Linked DNA regions of Homo sapiens: all the other regions are linked to region 3. The links come from fine-mapping of genetic effects on gene expression. A gene starts in region 3. Each other region holds a variant in brackets. All regions are shown on one strand. Distances are from middle to middle.

Region 1 (4,165 bases), 100 kb after region 3:
GCTGAGACAGGAGAATGGCGTGAACCCGGGAGGCGGAGCTTGCAGTGAGCCGAGGTCATGCCACTGCACTCCAGTCTGGGTGACAGAGCGAGACTCAGTCTCAAAAAAAAAAAAAAAAAAAAAAGACAGCTACTCATAATTATGACATAATCATGATTGGTAATGTGGGGAAGCAAATGTCTCAAAGCTTCTATACATATGTATATATTTTTTCATATATACAGAAAATTTTAAAATACGATTAATACAATAATTTCCGTTGTTGAACCAACTTTGAAGCCCTAGGATAAATTCCATTTGGTCGTGGTATGCAATTCTTTTTATACATTGCTGGATTTAGTTTCATAGTATTTTGTTGAGGATTTTTGCACGCATAATCATAAGAGATAATGGTTTGTAATTGTGTTTTTTCTTTTTGAGACGCAGTCTCACTCTGTCACCCAGGCTGGAGTGCAGTGGCGCAGCGTCAGCTCACTGCAACCTCCACCTCCTGGGTTCAAGCAATTCTCATGCCTCAGCTTCTTGAGTAGCTGGGATTACAGGCACCCACCACCACGCCCGGCTAATTTTTGTATTTTTAGTGGAGACACAGTTTCACCATGTTGGTCAGGCTGGTCTCGAACTCCTGACCTCATGATCCACCTCCCTCAGCCTCCCAAAGTGCTGGGATTACACGTGTGAGCCACCGTGCCCGGCATGTAGTTTTTTGTTTGTTTTTGTTTTTCTGAGACAGAGTCTCACTCTGTCGCCCAGGCTGGAGTGCAGTGGCACAATCTTGGCTCACTGCAAGCTCTGCCTCCTGGGTTCAGGCCATTCTCCTGCCTCAGCCTCCCAAGTAACTGGGACTAAAGGCACCTGCCACCACGCCTGGCTAATTTTTTCTATTTTTGGTAGAGATGGGGTTTTACCATGTTAGCCAGGATGGTCTCGATCTCCTGACCTCGTGATCCACCCGCCTCGGCCTCCCACAGTGCTGGGATTACAGGCGTGAGCCACCGCGCCCGGCCAGCATTTCTACTTCTATGTCTTCCCTTGTTCTAGGTCTATTTAGATTTTTTTCTTGAGTCAATTTCTGTTATTTCTGCCTTTGTAGGAATTTATTTCATCTAAGTTATCTAATTTGTTGGTATTTATTTGTTCAAAGTATTCCTTTATAATCCTTTCTTTAATCATAGTTTTCTTTCATTCTGTGAATATATTCATAATGACTACTTTAAAAGTATTTTTCTGATAAATCCTGCATCTGCTCACTCTGTTTTTGTTACCTGTTTCTTCCTCAGTGTATGGATCATACTTTCCTGTTACTTTGCGTGCCTCCTAATTTTTTCTTAGAAACTGGACATTGTAGATATATTGTAGCAGCTCCTAGCTCTGCGTCTCCTCTGTGGCTTGTTACTTTCATTTGCCAGTTTGTTTAGTGACTGGCTGAATTATTTTAGTAAAGTCTATTATGTCCCCCAGCCCCCACCGTTGTTCCTTAGGGAAGCACAGTTTTGGGTCTGCCCCAGTCACGCTGGGAGAACAATGGTTTTGGTAGGGCCCCCTTCCTGTCTTTCCTTGCCCATGCCCAGCTGTTAAACTTCACTATTTGCTGGCTGATTATTGTTTTCAACAATGTCCTGGGGTATAAATTGCTTTACAAGTGAATCTGATCAAATTCTGCTTCCTTTGCAGGGAATCGTTTCTAAAACCAGTGTTTGATATTTTTTGACCTTCCAGCTATCTTATTCTCCAGTTCATCCCCACAAATTAGAGGGCATACACTTTTACTTGTATTTGACTCTTTTCTCAGTTGTCTTTCATCACAACCTCCACCATTCTCGAGGGCATCCTTAGGCTTGAACTTCCCCAATCTGTTACAAATGAAGTCAGTTCCTTTAGGAAGAGATGTTAGGCACCATGGGTTGTATGGCCTAATTATCCCCCAGGCAAAATCTCTAAGCCAGAGCTCTGGAATTGGATGTGTGAACAATAGTCAATTGCTCTTCAGATGACACCTGCTCTAGGAGCTGAGTCCTCAGTGGAGGTGGGGTCCTAGCCTAAGGTCCTCTCAGCTTGTCTCTCCTGGTGTTGAACCCTCTCAGGACCCAGGGCAAAAGTGGTAAGTACTCCAGTAAGCTCAGCATGCTGCAACCAAAATAGAGCCTCCATTCCTCGAGTGAGAGCTGGGTGTGAAAGGGAGACCCCCAATTAACCTGACACTTGGCCTCACTAACAGGTAGAGAGAGGCAGAATGAGAAATGCTAATATCTTGATCTTCCTGGAAGAAAGTCCTCCAGCTGCGATCTGGAGCAGAGACAGAACCCTGTGTTACTGGCTCTAGCTGTCCAGAGTGGAATCTCCACCTTC[C/T]TGAGCTGGCAGGGAAAGGAAAGGAATGATCTTGCTTCAAATACCACAAACTCTTTTCTTACCAAATTTTAGTACATTTTCTTGAATAGATGCTTTTTTTTTTCTTTTTGAGACAGTCTCACTCTGTCGCCCAGGCTGGAGTGCCGTGGTGCAATCTCAGCTCACTACAGCCTCCACCTCCCAAGTTCAAGCTATTCTTATGCCGTAGCCTCCTGAGTAGCTGGGATTACAGGCACCTGCCATCACACACACATAATTTTTGTATTTTTAGTAGAGACGGGGTTTCACCATGTTGGCCAGGCTGGTCTCAAACTCCTGACCTCAAGTCATCCGCCCGCCTTAGCCTCCCAAAGTGCTGGGACTACAGGTGTGAGCCACCGCGCCCGGCCATGAATAGATGTTTCTTCATGTGCTGTTTGTCCTTAGGACCATTAAAAAGTGTTTTTTTTTCTTCATTTTCATTTTTTAATGGATAATTTTTCACTAGTTTTACTGGGGAGTTCACCAGTTATGCAGGAAGTCAGTATCTCCACTACTGTAGTTATTGTTATTAGTATACCTGGGTGTTAGAGAGCCAGCTCTTCTCAGAAAGTTAATGTGACTAGAGACAAGCCTTTCAAAAATTCCGAGGGAGTACAGGAACAACTGCTTGTCATAATAGCTGCTAAAAGTAACACAATTAGAGAACAAACTGAGGGAAGGGTAAGTTCTTGGCTTAATTTCTTACTAGGTATAAAGACTTGCAAAACAATGAACTTGGATAACAAAGAGAAACTGGAATGATTGACTCCGAATTTGTAATTTGACTGTAGAGAGAGAAGAATTCTGGGAGCAAATGTGTGATTTCCATGCATTCCAGAACTACCACCACTACACAGGACCCTAAGAATCCAGAGCATGTGAAGACATTTACTTTTGACCTGGCATATTGGTCTCACAATGGATTTCAAAGGGATAAGGATGGTGTCCTTATTTCAGCTGATCCTAGTCGTAAATTTGCAGGCCAGGTAAGTTGCTTTAAAACACAGCTTCAATGCCAGTTTTTTGTTGTTTTGTTTTTGATGATGTGTTCACAGTGTGAAAGTATAATAATTTTATGCAAGCATAAATCTATGTTTCCATATGAGAATTTCACTTTAAATTTACTCCTTTTCTATGCTGAACGTGAGGTCCAAAAACACAGCTATGGCCTAAGTAATTTTTAGATACTCAAATCAGTTCATTTGCCAATGTATTGACACACTGAAAAAGGTATGACAGTCAAGTCAATTATATTTTGCTTCCTTGAGATAAGCAAAATAAGCAAACTGTATGAGGCACTTAGCATCTGAGAACTTCTGTTTTAATGAGCATTTATCATATGCCATGCACTGTTCTGCCTGAAAGTTGCTCACAATTTGGTTTGGGGAGACAGGAAAAAAGTACACTCAGATGTTACAGGCTCTGTGATAAGATGTATGGGATACAGTGGGGTACAAAGGTGAGGTGGTCATTCAATCTAGACAGGATATCTGGTGAATGGTTTAATAAAGGGTATGATGTTTAGGCTGAATTTTGACAGACAAGGAGAAACAGTCAGAAAAAGTTATGGGGAGGAAATGAACAGAGCCTCAGTGACATGTGGGACAATCTTACTCTACATGTAATTGGAGTCACAGAAAGAATGGGAGGGGCGTGTGTGCAAAAAATACTTGAAGGAATGATGGCTGAAATTTTCCCAAATTTGATGGAAACTATAAACCCACAGGTCTAAGAAGAGCAATAAGTCCTAAGTAGAATAAGGAAAATCACAGTAAGTCTCATTTTAATTAAATTG
Region 2 (4,165 bases), 41 kb before region 3:
TTTGTTTGTTTGTTTGTTTTTTATTCCAAATAAGCTAGGCAATTAATAAGTTAGCAATGGATGGCCTGGAAAATTTCATTACCCAAGCCTTACATTATCAGCACATCTGCTTATGAAAAAATACTTAATACTTAAAAATACTTAAAATAATTAATAATTCTTGATTATCTCCAGGAAGAAGGAAACCACTGACAGGCAACCTGGGAGGGAGTGAACGGTTATACTGAGGCCATGAAAGGCACTGACATTCACACATAATAGGGTAATAAAAGGGAATTCACATCTATTGAGTGCCTACATGGGTGGGATATAATTTGGTTCTTAAGATGCACCAGCTGTGGAGTCCATCAGACCTGGATTTGAATCCCAATTCCATCATTCATCATTATGTGATTGTGGATATGTTTTTAACCCCTCTGATCTTCGCTTTTCTCATCTATAAAAGATGCCTTTTTCAAGTTGTTATGAGGCTTAAACAAGATAATTGTGTACGAATCTGGGCAAAATGCCTGTAATTTTGTGTTTAATACATAGAAGAGTATCATCCTTCTCTCATTTAATTTTTAGAGCAAACAAAGTCTGTGGTAATCATTTTTTTATAGTTAAATCAAGGATCAGAAAGATGAAATCACCATAGCCACATAGCAACTCACGGTACACATTCACATGATAATTGCTGGTCGCAAGTAGCAATGATAATCACATGTATAATCTCACATTATGTAGTGGTTTTACTTTACATAAGCCTCCTTATTTGTTGGAACCATAGATTCTAAGTTGCTCTATCAAAGCAATCATTAGAAATATGTGACGTTCGGCCGGGCACGGTGGCTCATGCCTGTAATCCCAACACTTTGGGAGGTTGAGGCGGGCAGATCACCTGAGGTCGGGAGTTCGAGACCAGCCTGACTGACATGGAGAAACCCTGTCTCTACTAAAAATACAAAATTAGCCTGGTGTGGTGGCGCATGCCTGTAATCCCAGCTACTCGGGAGGCTGAGGCAGGAGAATCTCTTGAACCTGGGAGGTGGAGGTTGCGTTGAGCCGAGATTGCCCCATTGCACTCCAGCCTGGGCAACAAGAGTGAAACTCCGTCTCAAAATATATATATATATATATGTTCTTAGTGTACACATTTTAGGAAATTTCCTATTACTCTTCTGTTTGATTTAATGTGTGTGATATTTTCAGAAATATGTAAGAATTTATATAGTATATATATATATATATATACACATTAAAAATATAAGTTGACATCACAGAGTAGACTTGACTCATGACAAATTTTTTTTCTGAAAGCACCTGCAGAAATCGGTGTTCTTTTGCGTTTCTAAAAAACCCAGAGGCTGCCGGGCTCAGTGGCTCACGCCTGCAATCCCAGCACTTTGGGAGGCCAAGGTGGGTAGAACTCAAGGTCAGGAGTTCAAGACCAGCCTGGCCAACATGGTGAAACCCTGTCTCTACTAAAAATACAAAAATTAGCTGGGCGTGGTGGCAGGTGTCTGTAATCCCAGCTACTTGGGAGGCTGAGGCAGAGAACTGCTTGAACCCGGGAGGTGGAGGTTGCAGCGAGCCGAGATCACGCCATTTACTCCAGCCTGGGCGACAGAATGAGACTTC[A/G]TCTCAAAAAAAACTCAGAGGCCACTGGGGAGAGGAGGCTTTTTGGATTCCCAGTAGTGCACAAGACTTAGATTTGATTACAGTAGTAATTTAAGCATAATCCATTGTAAGGTGATGATCCAGAGAGACTTCATAACAACGCAGAAACTTAAAAGCTCCCAGCAGCCAGAAAGGAAGGAAAATCAGAATTATGGTGGGGCAGGGCAACCACTTGGGGGGTTGCTGTGGGAGGGGACAGCCACCGGTTTGGGTAGCCACAGGGCATTGTGAGCCAAGTGCCTGGGACAGGAACTCTAGGAGTGATTGGTTTCTGGTAACCAGGTGACCTAGGAGGCCTGGTTAGTAGGCACAGGCCAGTGGCCTTCAGTCGGCAGTCAGTGGCAAGAGGAGGCGGAGCACCGACCTGCTACAGTGCTTTCTCCCTGCATGGTTGCGCTTCTCTGCACTTGTTGGGCTCCATCCATTTTAAATAAACCAGCAGGCCCCTGCCCTCAGGGGCAAGTTGTCTGAGCCGGGGGAGGGAAGGAGCTGAGGCAATCCCAGCACTTTGGGAGGCCCCGGTGGATGGATCACCTGAGATCAGGAGTTCAAGACCAGCCTGGCCTTGAACTCCTGATGAAGTTCAAGATGGTGAAACCCCGTCTGTACTAAAAATACAAAAAATTAGCCGGGTGTGGTGGTGCACTGTGGGCGGGAAGCCACCCAGGTGCCAAGGCAAGAGACCAAGGGCACAAGCTGTTGCAGTATAATAAAGAAAATGTATAGAATAAGAATAGTTATACTAGAAATAGATTACAGATATGATTATATATAAATATCATTAATCATTAGTTTCTAGCATTACTCTTTATTCCAATATTATAATAATCTTTGTTTTACAGTATAACCTAGGAAAAACCAGGCCAAACAGAGATAGGAGCTGAAGGGACACAGTGAGAAGCGACCAGAAGGCAAGAGTGTGAGCCCTCTGTCATGCCCAGACAGGGCCACTAGAGGGCTCCCTGGTCTAGCGGTAGCGTCAGTGCCTGGGGAAGGCTCCCGTTACTTAGCAGACCAGGAAAGGGAGTCTCCCTTTCCCTGGGGAATTTAGACAAGACTCTGCTCCACCACCTCTTGTGGAAGGCCTGACATCAGTCAGGCCCACCCACAGCTATCCGGAGGCCTGACCGTCTCCCTGTGATGCTGTGCTTCAGCGGTCACACTCCTGGCCCGCTTTCATGTTCCGCCCTGTACAACTGGCTCCGCCTTCTAGATAGCAGTAGCAGAATCAGTGAAGACTAAAGTCTTTGAAATGCACAGAAGAAATAATGATGTAAGCTGCCCTCTCTCTCTGCCTGGGCTACCAAATGGAAGGGCCCCCTCTCCGGTGGACAGGTGACTCGTGTGACCTTACCTATCATTGGAGATGGCTCACACTCCTTACCCTGCCAACTTGTCTTGTAGCCAATAAATAACAGCGCAGCCATGCATTCGGGGCCACTACCCATCTCCGCATTTAGGTGGTAGTAGTCCCCTGGGCCCAGCTGTCTTTTCTTCTATCTCCTTGTCTTGTGTCTTTATTTCTACGATCTCTCGTCTCTGCACACAAGGAGAAAAACCCACAGACCCAATAGGGCTGGACCCTACAGCGCATGCCTGTAATCCCAGCTACTCGGGAGGCTGAGGCAGGAGAATCGCTTGAACTCGGGAGGTGGAGGTTGCAGTGAGCCAAGTTTGCACCATTGCACTCCAGCCTGGGCGACAGAGCGAGACTTCGTCTCAAAACACAAAAACAAACAAACAAACAAAACACTTTGTTTTTAGCCGTTCTACTAAGGGTCTTTACTCCTCACCCTAAGTCTTCAACAAGGGCTCTCCACTCTGCCTGTTAGGAACTCACATTTACCAGCCCTGTGTCAGCTTTGGGAATTGTTTAGCTTATAGATTCCCGTCAATTAATTGTTCCTTGCCAGGCTTGGTGAGTTTCACCTTATACATGCCAGATTAGTATTCATGCCAAGTCTCAAGGGGACTCGTATGCAGATTTCTGGAGCTCTCTTTACATAGCTTCTTCCTCTTCAATACTCTGCCTCACAAATTGCAAACTGCCGTAGCCATCCCCACCTCCAGTCTTTCCTCAACTCAGCAAGATCTCTTGGGCTCTGTTTGGATTCCTTACACAACAACTCGAAAATTGCCTGCAGACAAAGAACTGGAGTGATTGTAGGGCTCACCTCTGTTTCCCTCCTCTCCGAGATCACACTTTACACTACCTACAGTCCTAATATTTGAATACAGTTGTTTCGTATATTTTGTCAGTTTTCTAGTTGTCTATGCCAGAAGGGGAACATCTGTCTCAATCACTCTTTCACTGTCGGAACAGAAGTTACTGATTTGTTCTTAACACTAGTTTACTTTGAATTAATGCGTAATTTAAAACTCAAAAACACCTGTGTTAAAAGAGCTGCTCTCTATACTAAGTGCTATGATAGCAATACTGGAAAGGATTTTAGGAGAAGATACTCAAGTTGACTCTTTAAGTATCTCTAACTTTACAAGGCCTGTG
Region 3 (4,165 bases):
AATAGCCATGCACTCCAGTCTGAGCAACACAGCAAGACACAGTCTCTACAAAAATAAAAATAGGCTGGGCATGGTGGCTCATGTCTGTAATCCCAGCACGTTGAGAGGCTGAGGCAGGAGGATCTCTTGAGCCCAGGAGTAGAGACCAGCTTGGGTAACACAGTGAGACAGTCTCTACAAAAAATAAAAAATAAGGCCGGGCGCGGTGGCTCACGCCTATAATCCCAGCACTTTGGGAGGCTGAGGCAGGTGGATCACGAGGTCAAGAGTTCAAGACCATCCTGGCCAACATGGTGAAACCCTGTCTCTACTAAAAATACAAAAATCAGCTGGGCATGGTGGCGCACACCTGTAGTCCTAGCTACTCTGGAGGCTGAGACAGGAGAACCTCTTGAACCTGGGAGGCGGAGGTTGCAGTGAGCCGAGATTGTGCCACTGCACTCCAGCCTGGTGACAGAGCGAGACTCCGTCTCAAATAAATAAATAAATAAATAAATAAATAAAATAAAAAAATTAATGGGACGTAGTGGCGCATGGTGGTCCATGCCCATAGTCCCAGCTACTTGGAGGGCTGAGGTAGGAGGATCATTTGAGCCCACGAGTTCGAGGCTGCTGTGAGCCTTGATTACACCACTGCACTCCAGCCTGGGCGACAGAGCGAGACACTGTCTCAAAAATAAAAAAATTTAAAAAGCACATATGAAAGGTAACAGAAAAGTAGAAACTTTCCTGATAAAAGAGCATCTTCTTAAAATCCCTACTCTACCTCATGTTATAATCCTTTTACTTACTACTTAGTATTAAGGATACGTTCCCTATCTGTTTGAAACATGTTTGGCGCTGGGATTTGCTTCAAAGGAAGATACTAACAAGAAATAAGAAATTCCACAATGAAAACCCGCGGTGACCAAAAAGATAACAGTGATTTGGGGTAAAATTTTGACTAAAAAGATTAGGCTAGGCTGCGCGAGCATTTTTGGCCATGAAAGCACAGGAGGATGCTAGAAAAAACAGCACCGTGGAAAAAGCGTTTCCCCAGAAGTCTGGGAGCCCACCTTTGGCATGAAAAGCGGGAGCACAGGTTGTAGTGAGCCAAGATCGTGCCACAGCACTCCAGCCTGGGCAACAGAGCAAGACTCCGTCTCCAAAAAAAAGAAAAAGAAAAAAAGAAAAGTGGGAGCACAGAACAGAAAATACAGAATGCAAGCTGCCAATTATGGGAGAAAGATTATCACTCGGCCCCCAGCTGGCAGGGCCACACGATTACGTGACAAGAGAGTCCGCCTGCAATCGCAGCAGGCGGCTGGCAGAGCCCGGCGCGACCCCCAGCGAAGACTACCACTCCCAACTGCGCACGGGGCGCGCCGCCGGGGCCGCCAGGGCGGCTTCACGCGCAAGGCACTGTGGGACTCGTAGTCTTTCTCCCCACCAGCTCCTCGGAGGCGGAGAGACCCGATTTTTTTGTAAATGATCCGCCCTTCCAGGCCCTGCTTCTCTTTCCTCCCTTTCCCTCCCACCTCCTTCTTTCACCGAGAGTTTGAAAATTCCCGCGGAGCCGGCGCTAGAGCGCGGAACCATCGCGAGAACTCTGGTCCCTGCAGCCGCGATCTCCCGCCGGTTCTCCCCTCCCTCTCCGCCCTTTCCTCTGCTCCCTCCCTTCCGGGGCGTGTGGAACTCGGTTTTGTCGGCGCAGGGTAATGCGCAGAGCGGGGCCGGCGCTGTCCGAGGCGAGCAGGCAGCGTTGCAAGGGGAAGGACCCAGAAGCGCGGCGGGAGCAGCGACTGCGTTTTAGCCGCTGAGCGGTCTGCAGGCCTACAGCCCGCGAAGGCACTCTCGGGGGCGTGTGGCTCTGAGGTGGCCGGGGAGGTCGCAGGCGGCGGCCGGAGCGCAGAGGAGCGGCTTCAGCCGGGCGGAGGGGTGTGAGCCCGGCCCGTGGCGGCCACGTCTCCCGGGAGATGCTGTGACGGACCCGCACGGGAGGAGCTCGCGCCTGGCCTGGCGACCCGGTGGACTCGGCCCGCGGCGGCGCGCTCACCCGCCCCGTTCAGGTAGGGGGAAGGGAGGGAGGGGGTTGGGCCCGCGCGGCGGAGGGCGGGTCGCGCGGCCTGGACCCGCGGCGGCGGCGGCGGCGGCGGCGGCGGCGGCGGGGCTTCTGCCCCGCGAGCGCCGGGCCTAGGCCGGGCGTGCGCGGGGCCAACGGATGGGGCTCGAGGGGGCGAGCGGTGGCGGTGGCGGGTACGGCAGGCTCGCGGGCGCCGGGCTTCGTTACATAATCTCGGACCGGAGGAGCGGCGGCACATGGCGGCGGAGCGGCGCTGGTGGTTCGCGTCCTGCGCCGGCAGTCGGGTCCCTTTACGGACGGCCGGGGCCGCGACCCTTTCCCACTGTTCTCCCACGCGATGGACTCGTTGGCGGGCCTTTCCCCGAGGGAAGCGGCCGGCGTGCTGAGCCTGTCCTGTGTTGGCGTGTGTTCCACATGCGCTTGGGCCTGGCCACAGTGAGTAGTCCTGGCGGGGAAGAAGTTGGACTCGGGGCTCAGCCGTGAGGTTCCAGCTCACCCGATTGGTCAGATCAAGGAGATTTAAAATAAAAGCACATCTTGGGGTGCTTTGCCTTCCTTTTTCCTACCTGGGAAACAGGACGGTTTCTTTTGCCACTGGTTGACTGTTTTGGTTTGGGTGTTTTGTTTTGAGAGATGGGGAAATTTTGTTCTCAAAGCTTACGAGGTTCATACTATCTGTGTGCAAAGTTTTATGAGATGAGCGTTATTTTTATTTCCAAATCGTCAGTTGTAGAAATTTTTGGAAGAACTGGGTTCTTCATAGAACAAAACGTAAATCCTTTGGGGAAATCCTAAACGATATTTATTCTCAGAATATCCTAAAGAACCTGTAGATTTTAAGAACTGTCTTTGGCTGGGCGCAGTGGCTCCTGTCTGTAATCCCAGCACTTTGAGAGGCTGAGGCGGGAGGATCGCTTGAACCCAGGAGTTTGAGACCAGCCTGAGCAACATGGCGAGACCCCCCCTTTTTTTTTTTTAAACTGTTTTTTTGTGAGCTTTCACTGATAGAGTCTCTTAGGAGAGAAGAAATTAGAGTGGTTTACTTATTTCGGAGGATTTGACCTGGGATGACAAGCCCAGTTAAGGTTAATACTTGAAGGGATGTTTTAAGTGTGCCAAGCGCTATGGGAAGTCTACGTTGTCTCTGTACTGTGATTTTTGGATCCTGATCCTTCAGTAACATACTACCAAGCTGTCACGAGTTTGCAAACAACAATAATTATCTTGAAAAAATTTTTAAAACATCATGTCAACCGGGAATTGGTGGCGCCTCTAGTCGCGCGCCTACTTGGGAGGCTGAGGCGGGGGGAACGTTTGAGCTTCAGCCTCAAACTGAGAGTTCGAGGGTTGCAGTGAGCTAGGATCGCGCCGCTGCACTCAGCCTGTGTGACAGAGCGAGAACCTGTTGCTAAAATAAAATAAAAAAGATCGTTATACATCAGTTTTGAGACTTTTGTTTTCTTTTTATGCTTCTCCTTTTTCATAGGTACAGATACATCTTTTTTTTTTTTTGAGACGGGGTCTTGCTCTGTTGCCCAGGCTGGAGTGCAGTGGCACAATCTTGGCTCACTGCAACCTCCGTCTCCCAGGTTCAAGCGATTCTCCTGCCTCAGCCTCCTGAGTAGCTGGGATTACAGGCGCACGCCACCACACCCGGCTAATTTTTGTATTTTTAGTAGAGACGGGGTTTCACCATATTGGCCAGGCTGGTCTTGAACTTCTGACCTCGTGATCCGCCCGCCTTGGCCTCCCAGAGTGCTGGGATTACAGGCGTGAGCCACCGCGCCCGGCTGGTACAGATATATTTTAAGAGGAAGCAAAACGTTGTGTCTTTCACGCCTACCTTTAATATTTTCAGGGACTTTTCTTTCTTCCCAGAATGAAGTGTAACTTCCCTCGGTTAGCTCAAAGGTCTCTACAATAAGTATATGCTACTGTCTATCCTCATATGTTAACAAATTTTATGCTTTTGCTATTCCAGAATCGTCATCAATCCTGGACTCATTCTGTGGAAGAGATGTTTCCACTCTGATGTTTCTTTGCTCATGTCCTTCATCCTGGAGTGCCATCTTTCCTTTTTTAAATACTCAAATTTCAGGTCCT
Region 4 (4,165 bases), 23 kb before region 3:
AGTGGCTCATGCCTGTAATCCTAGCACTTTAGGAGGCCAAGGTGGGAGGATCACTTGAGGTCAGGAGTTCAAGACTAGCTTGGGCAACACAGCAAGACCACATCTCTACAAAAATAAAAATAAATAATAACAATAATAGTTTCATGATATCTAATAACATAGAATGGGCAATTCAATATTAACATACCCCCAATTATCCCATGATCTTTTTTTTATTTTTGGAGGCAGAGTCTCACTCTGTCCCCCAGGCTGGAGTGCAGCGGCACAATCTCGGCTCACTGCAACCTCTGCCTCCCGGGTTCAAGTGATTCTCCTACTTCAGCCTCCTGAGTAGCTGGGATTATAGGTGACTGCCACCAGGCCCGGCTAATTTTTGTATTTTTTGTAGAGACGGGGTTTCACCATGTTGGCCAGGCTGGTCTCAAACTCCTGACCTCAAGTGATCTGCCTGCCTCAGCCTCCCAGAGTGCTGGGATTACAGGCATGAGCCACCGCGCCCGGCCCCCATGACCATCTTTTATAGATTTTTTTAAAAATAATGATCCAATCGGCCGGGCACAGTAGCTCATGCTTGTAATCCCAGCACTTTGGGAGGCCGAGGCTGGTCGATCACGAGGTCAGGAGTTCAAGACCAGCCTGGCCAACTTGGTGAAACCCCATCTCTACTAAAAATGCAAAAAAATTAGCCGGGACTGGTGGCCGAAGCCTGTAATCTCAGCTACTTGGGAGGCTGAGGCAGAGAACTGCTTGAACCCAGGAGGTGGAGGTTGCAGTGAGCCGAGATCATGCCACTGTACTCTAGCCTGGGTTACAGAGCAAGACTCTGTCTTAAAAAAAAAAAAAAAAAAAAATCCAATCCAAACTAATATCTGGCATGTGGGTATCTTTGGTTAATGTCCTCATCTGGCTCCCGTGCCTCCGTACCTAAATCTGTCAAGTAAGGGGTTAGTGATGAGACCGTTGTCTACCCAGGGAGTTCTTGTGAGCATCATATTCACTTTCTTCAGCTGGGACTCACTGAGCACCTTCTGTGTGCTGGACATTGTCCAGAAGACAGTAGTACTCTTAGGAGCCTACATTCTAGAGAGATGGTAGAAAAGAACGGACTTTGAAAAGTTAACATCGCTAGGTAAATATAGGGCGTTATCATTTTAGGCTAAAGGATTGAAACAAATCTTGGGGAAAAAGCCTCCTTTGTACAAAAGAAAATGGATTTAGATTAAAATTAATTAGTTCTGTTCTGTGTAGGTGTTTGTTTACAAGCTCAATGAAGAGATCAGCAATACTGAGTAGAATGATAATTTTAGAGTTTAGAGTATATGAGAACACTGCGGGAGAGCTTCTACTCTTAATTAAATAAAATTACTTATACACATTTTGTCACATAATACAGTTAAGCACTGCATAACAGTTTCAGTCAATGATGGACCTCATAGACGACAGTGATCCCCTAAGGTTACAATAGAGCTGAAAAATTTCTATCACAAATACTTACCATTGTGTGATGATTTCCTTACACTATTCAGTACAGTAACATGCTGTACAGGTTTGTAGCCTAGGAGCAATAGGCCTGTATTGGTCTATTTTCATACTGCTATGAAGAAATACCCAAGACTGGGTAATTTTTAAAGAAAAAGAGGTTTAATGGATCCAGTTTCACATGGCTGGGGAGGCCTCACAATCGTGGTGGAAGGTGAAGGAGGAGCAAAGGCACATCTTCATGGTGGCAGGCAAGAAAGCACGTGCAG[A/T]CTTATTCACTGTCGTGAGAACTGTATGGGAAAAACTCCCCCTATGATTCAATTACCTCCCACCAGGTCCCTCCCATGACACGTGGGGATTATGGGAGCTACAATTCAAGATGAGATTTGGATGAGATTTGGGTGGGGACACAGCCAAACCATATCAAGGCCTTACCTGATAGCCTAGGTGTATAGTAGGCTATACTATATAGATTTGTGTAAGTACACTCAATGATTTTCTCAGAATGTATCCTGAGATGACTGTATGACTGTATTAAATTTTTATTTTCTCAGTTATTATTTTCCTAAAAACTTAGTGAGCAAGAAAACCCTATAAGAATATAGAGATAGCAAGTCAGAGTTTCGAGCTGGAAGTGGCCTGAGAGATCGTCTAATCCAGATTCCACATTTTTACAGATGATCTGATCAGTGATCATTTTACAGGAATTTGCATGAAACTTAAGGCTCTAGACACACATGGTTTCCATATATAGAAGCCTGATTCCAAATCCTGTACATTAGACAAGACAATCAGAATCTTGTGTTATCCTGATTTTTGTTCTTCATCTTCCAGTTACATGGGTTTTCTTGTGAGAGCTGAAATAATAGTATCACCTTTGGGGAACGGTGACTGCCAGTTTTGGATCAATCTTAGGCCACTGGAAGGTTGGTGGATCTTCTCCAGCAATTCGGGCTGAACTCAAGCAAAGCTGAGTCTAAGATCAGTTTGGACCCTTTCCCCTGGAACAGCTGGCAGGCATTGCCTGTTCCTGTCCTTGGCTTTCAACTGCTGGACAACATGTTTGGGGAGTGTGTGCCAATATTTGGGTTTTTATTCTTCTGGTTTAACAGTTGTTAGTGCCGTTGGCTCTCAGGGAAATTCAGGACAATCTCCTTCTGTAGCTTTAAGGTTGGCCTGATTGGCAAGACAGTTGAGGACAAACTGAAGTCATTCGTTCATTCATGTGCCAGTGTCCCTGTGCTCAGAAACAGTTGTTTTAAGGATGGCAAAATGGAAGACTTGAGGATTTATGATAATACTGAATGGCTATCCTCTAGGGCACTGTTGAGTCTTAGCAGAGTCCCAAGCTCTACACTTACCCTGAGTTTTTAGGCTTCTTTGTTTTTCGGGTTTCTTTTTTTTTTTTTTTTTGCTTGTTTGTTTGTTTGTTTTGAGACAGTCTCACTCTGTCGCCCAGGCTGGAGTGCAGTGGCGTGATCTCAGCTCACTGCAACCTTCATCTCCTGGGTTCAAGTGATTCTCCTGCCTCAGCCTCCTGAGTAGCTGGGATTACAGGTGCCTGCCACTATGCCCAGCTAATTTTTGTATTTTTAGTAGTAATTTTGTATTTTTACCACGTTGGTCAGGCTGGTTTTGAACTCCTGACCTCAGGTGACCCACCTACCTTGTCCTCTCAAAGTGCTGGGATACAGGCGTGAGCCACTACGCAGGGCCCATTTCTTTGTTGTTTTTTTGTTTGTTTTTGAGATGGAGTCTTGCTCTGTCACCCAGAGCTAGAGTGCAGTGGTGCGATCTTGGCTCACTGCAACCTCTGCCTCCCGGGTTCAAACGATTCTCCTGCCTCAGCCTCCCGAGTAGCTGGGACTACAGGCGTGTGCCACCACGCCTGGCTAATTTTTTATATTTTTTTTACTAGATGCGGGGTATCACCATGTTAGCCAGGATGGTCTAGGTCGCCTAACCTCGTGATCCGCCCGCCTCGGCCTCCTAAAGTGCTGGGATTACAGGCGTGGCCCACTTTGTTTTTATTACTGAGGTTATTCTGTAGGTTTTCTGAAAATAAGCAATCAGCATCTAGGTCCAAATTTACAATTTGTAATGACATTCCAAAATTCATCAATGAATAAAACAATAGCTAGGAATGTCATGTTAATTATTTAAATACGTTGGAATCTGCCAATGTTCCCTTAAGCCTCCCTCCAAAGGAGGCCTGAAGTTGAGCGTATGACAAGAAAATATCTAGTAGAGTAGAACAAACTTAGTATTACACCGAAAGCCTAGGGAAGTATTACAGTCCAGCCATTGGGAACCTCAGAGGATTGTGGGGTGGACATGCCCTTCTAAATTGTGGCTCAAGTAGGGTCACATCCTTTCCTAGGTTTCCTTCATTGTGGCTGAGACTGGCAATAATTTCTTTTTTAAAACAAAATTTATACAGATAAGGCCTCACTATGTTGCCCAGGCTGGTCTTGAACTCTTGAACTCCTGGGCTTAAGTGATCCTCCTGCCTCAGCCTCCCAAAGTGCTGGGATTACAGATGTGAGCCACTGCACCTGGCCAAAAATCAATAGTTTCTGAAAAGAAGTTGCTGAATACTGTTGAGGAATAAAAGATGAATTAAATATGGAGAATAAAGGAAGCATAACACCAGCATGCTGGAATGCACCTGTAGTCCCAGCTACCC

Direction of the effects. Alleles are on the strand shown, and positions count from the first base shown. SD is a standard deviation of normalised expression in the study named. Not every link is listed here.
In carriers of allele A in region 4, the expression in whole blood of the gene that starts at base 1,678 in region 3 tends to be higher than with T alone (moderate effect, 0.59 SD a copy in Lepik 2017).

The links. PIP is the estimated chance that this variant, and not a neighbour inherited with it, causes the effect. A credible set is the group of variants that fine-mapping cannot tell apart.
Region 1: its variant is the best candidate, but not a certain one, in a credible set for the expression of AHCTF1 in blood mononuclear cells (TOPMed, PIP 0.54).
Region 2: its variant is the best candidate, but not a certain one, in a credible set for the expression of AHCTF1 in whole blood (GTEx, PIP 0.76).
Region 4: its variant is the best candidate, but not a certain one, in a credible set for the expression of AHCTF1 in whole blood (Lepik 2017, PIP 0.57).

What each region holds. Positions count from the first base shown.
Region 1 is chr1:246,829,092-246,833,256 of GRCh38, reverse strand. No RefSeq gene overlaps it. Among named protein-coding and RNA genes, the nearest start is that of LINC01341, 42 kb to the right of the region's middle. The variant C/T (reference allele first, on the strand shown) is at 2,350.
Region 2 is chr1:246,970,000-246,974,164 of GRCh38, reverse strand. The region is part of intron 5 of ZNF670-ZNF695 (ZNF670-ZNF695 readthrough (NMD candidate)); the gene reads left to right. It also overlaps a transcript of ZNF695 not described here. Among named protein-coding and RNA genes, the nearest start is that of ZNF695, 36 kb to the left of the region's middle. The variant A/G (reference allele first, on the strand shown) is at 1,621.
Region 3 is chr1:246,929,461-246,933,625 of GRCh38, reverse strand. AHCTF1 (AT-hook containing transcription factor 1) reads left to right here and starts at 1,678. Exons shown (of 36, transcript NM_001323342.2): 1 at 1,678-2,048. RefSeq lists enhancers at 1,296-1,345, 2,466-2,555 and a silencer at 2,026-2,125.
Region 4 is chr1:246,952,672-246,956,836 of GRCh38, reverse strand. The region is part of intron 6 of ZNF670-ZNF695 (ZNF670-ZNF695 readthrough (NMD candidate)); the gene reads left to right. It also overlaps a transcript of ZNF695 not described here. Among named protein-coding and RNA genes, the nearest start is that of AHCTF1, 23 kb to the right of the region's middle. The variant A/T (reference allele first, on the strand shown) is at 1,749.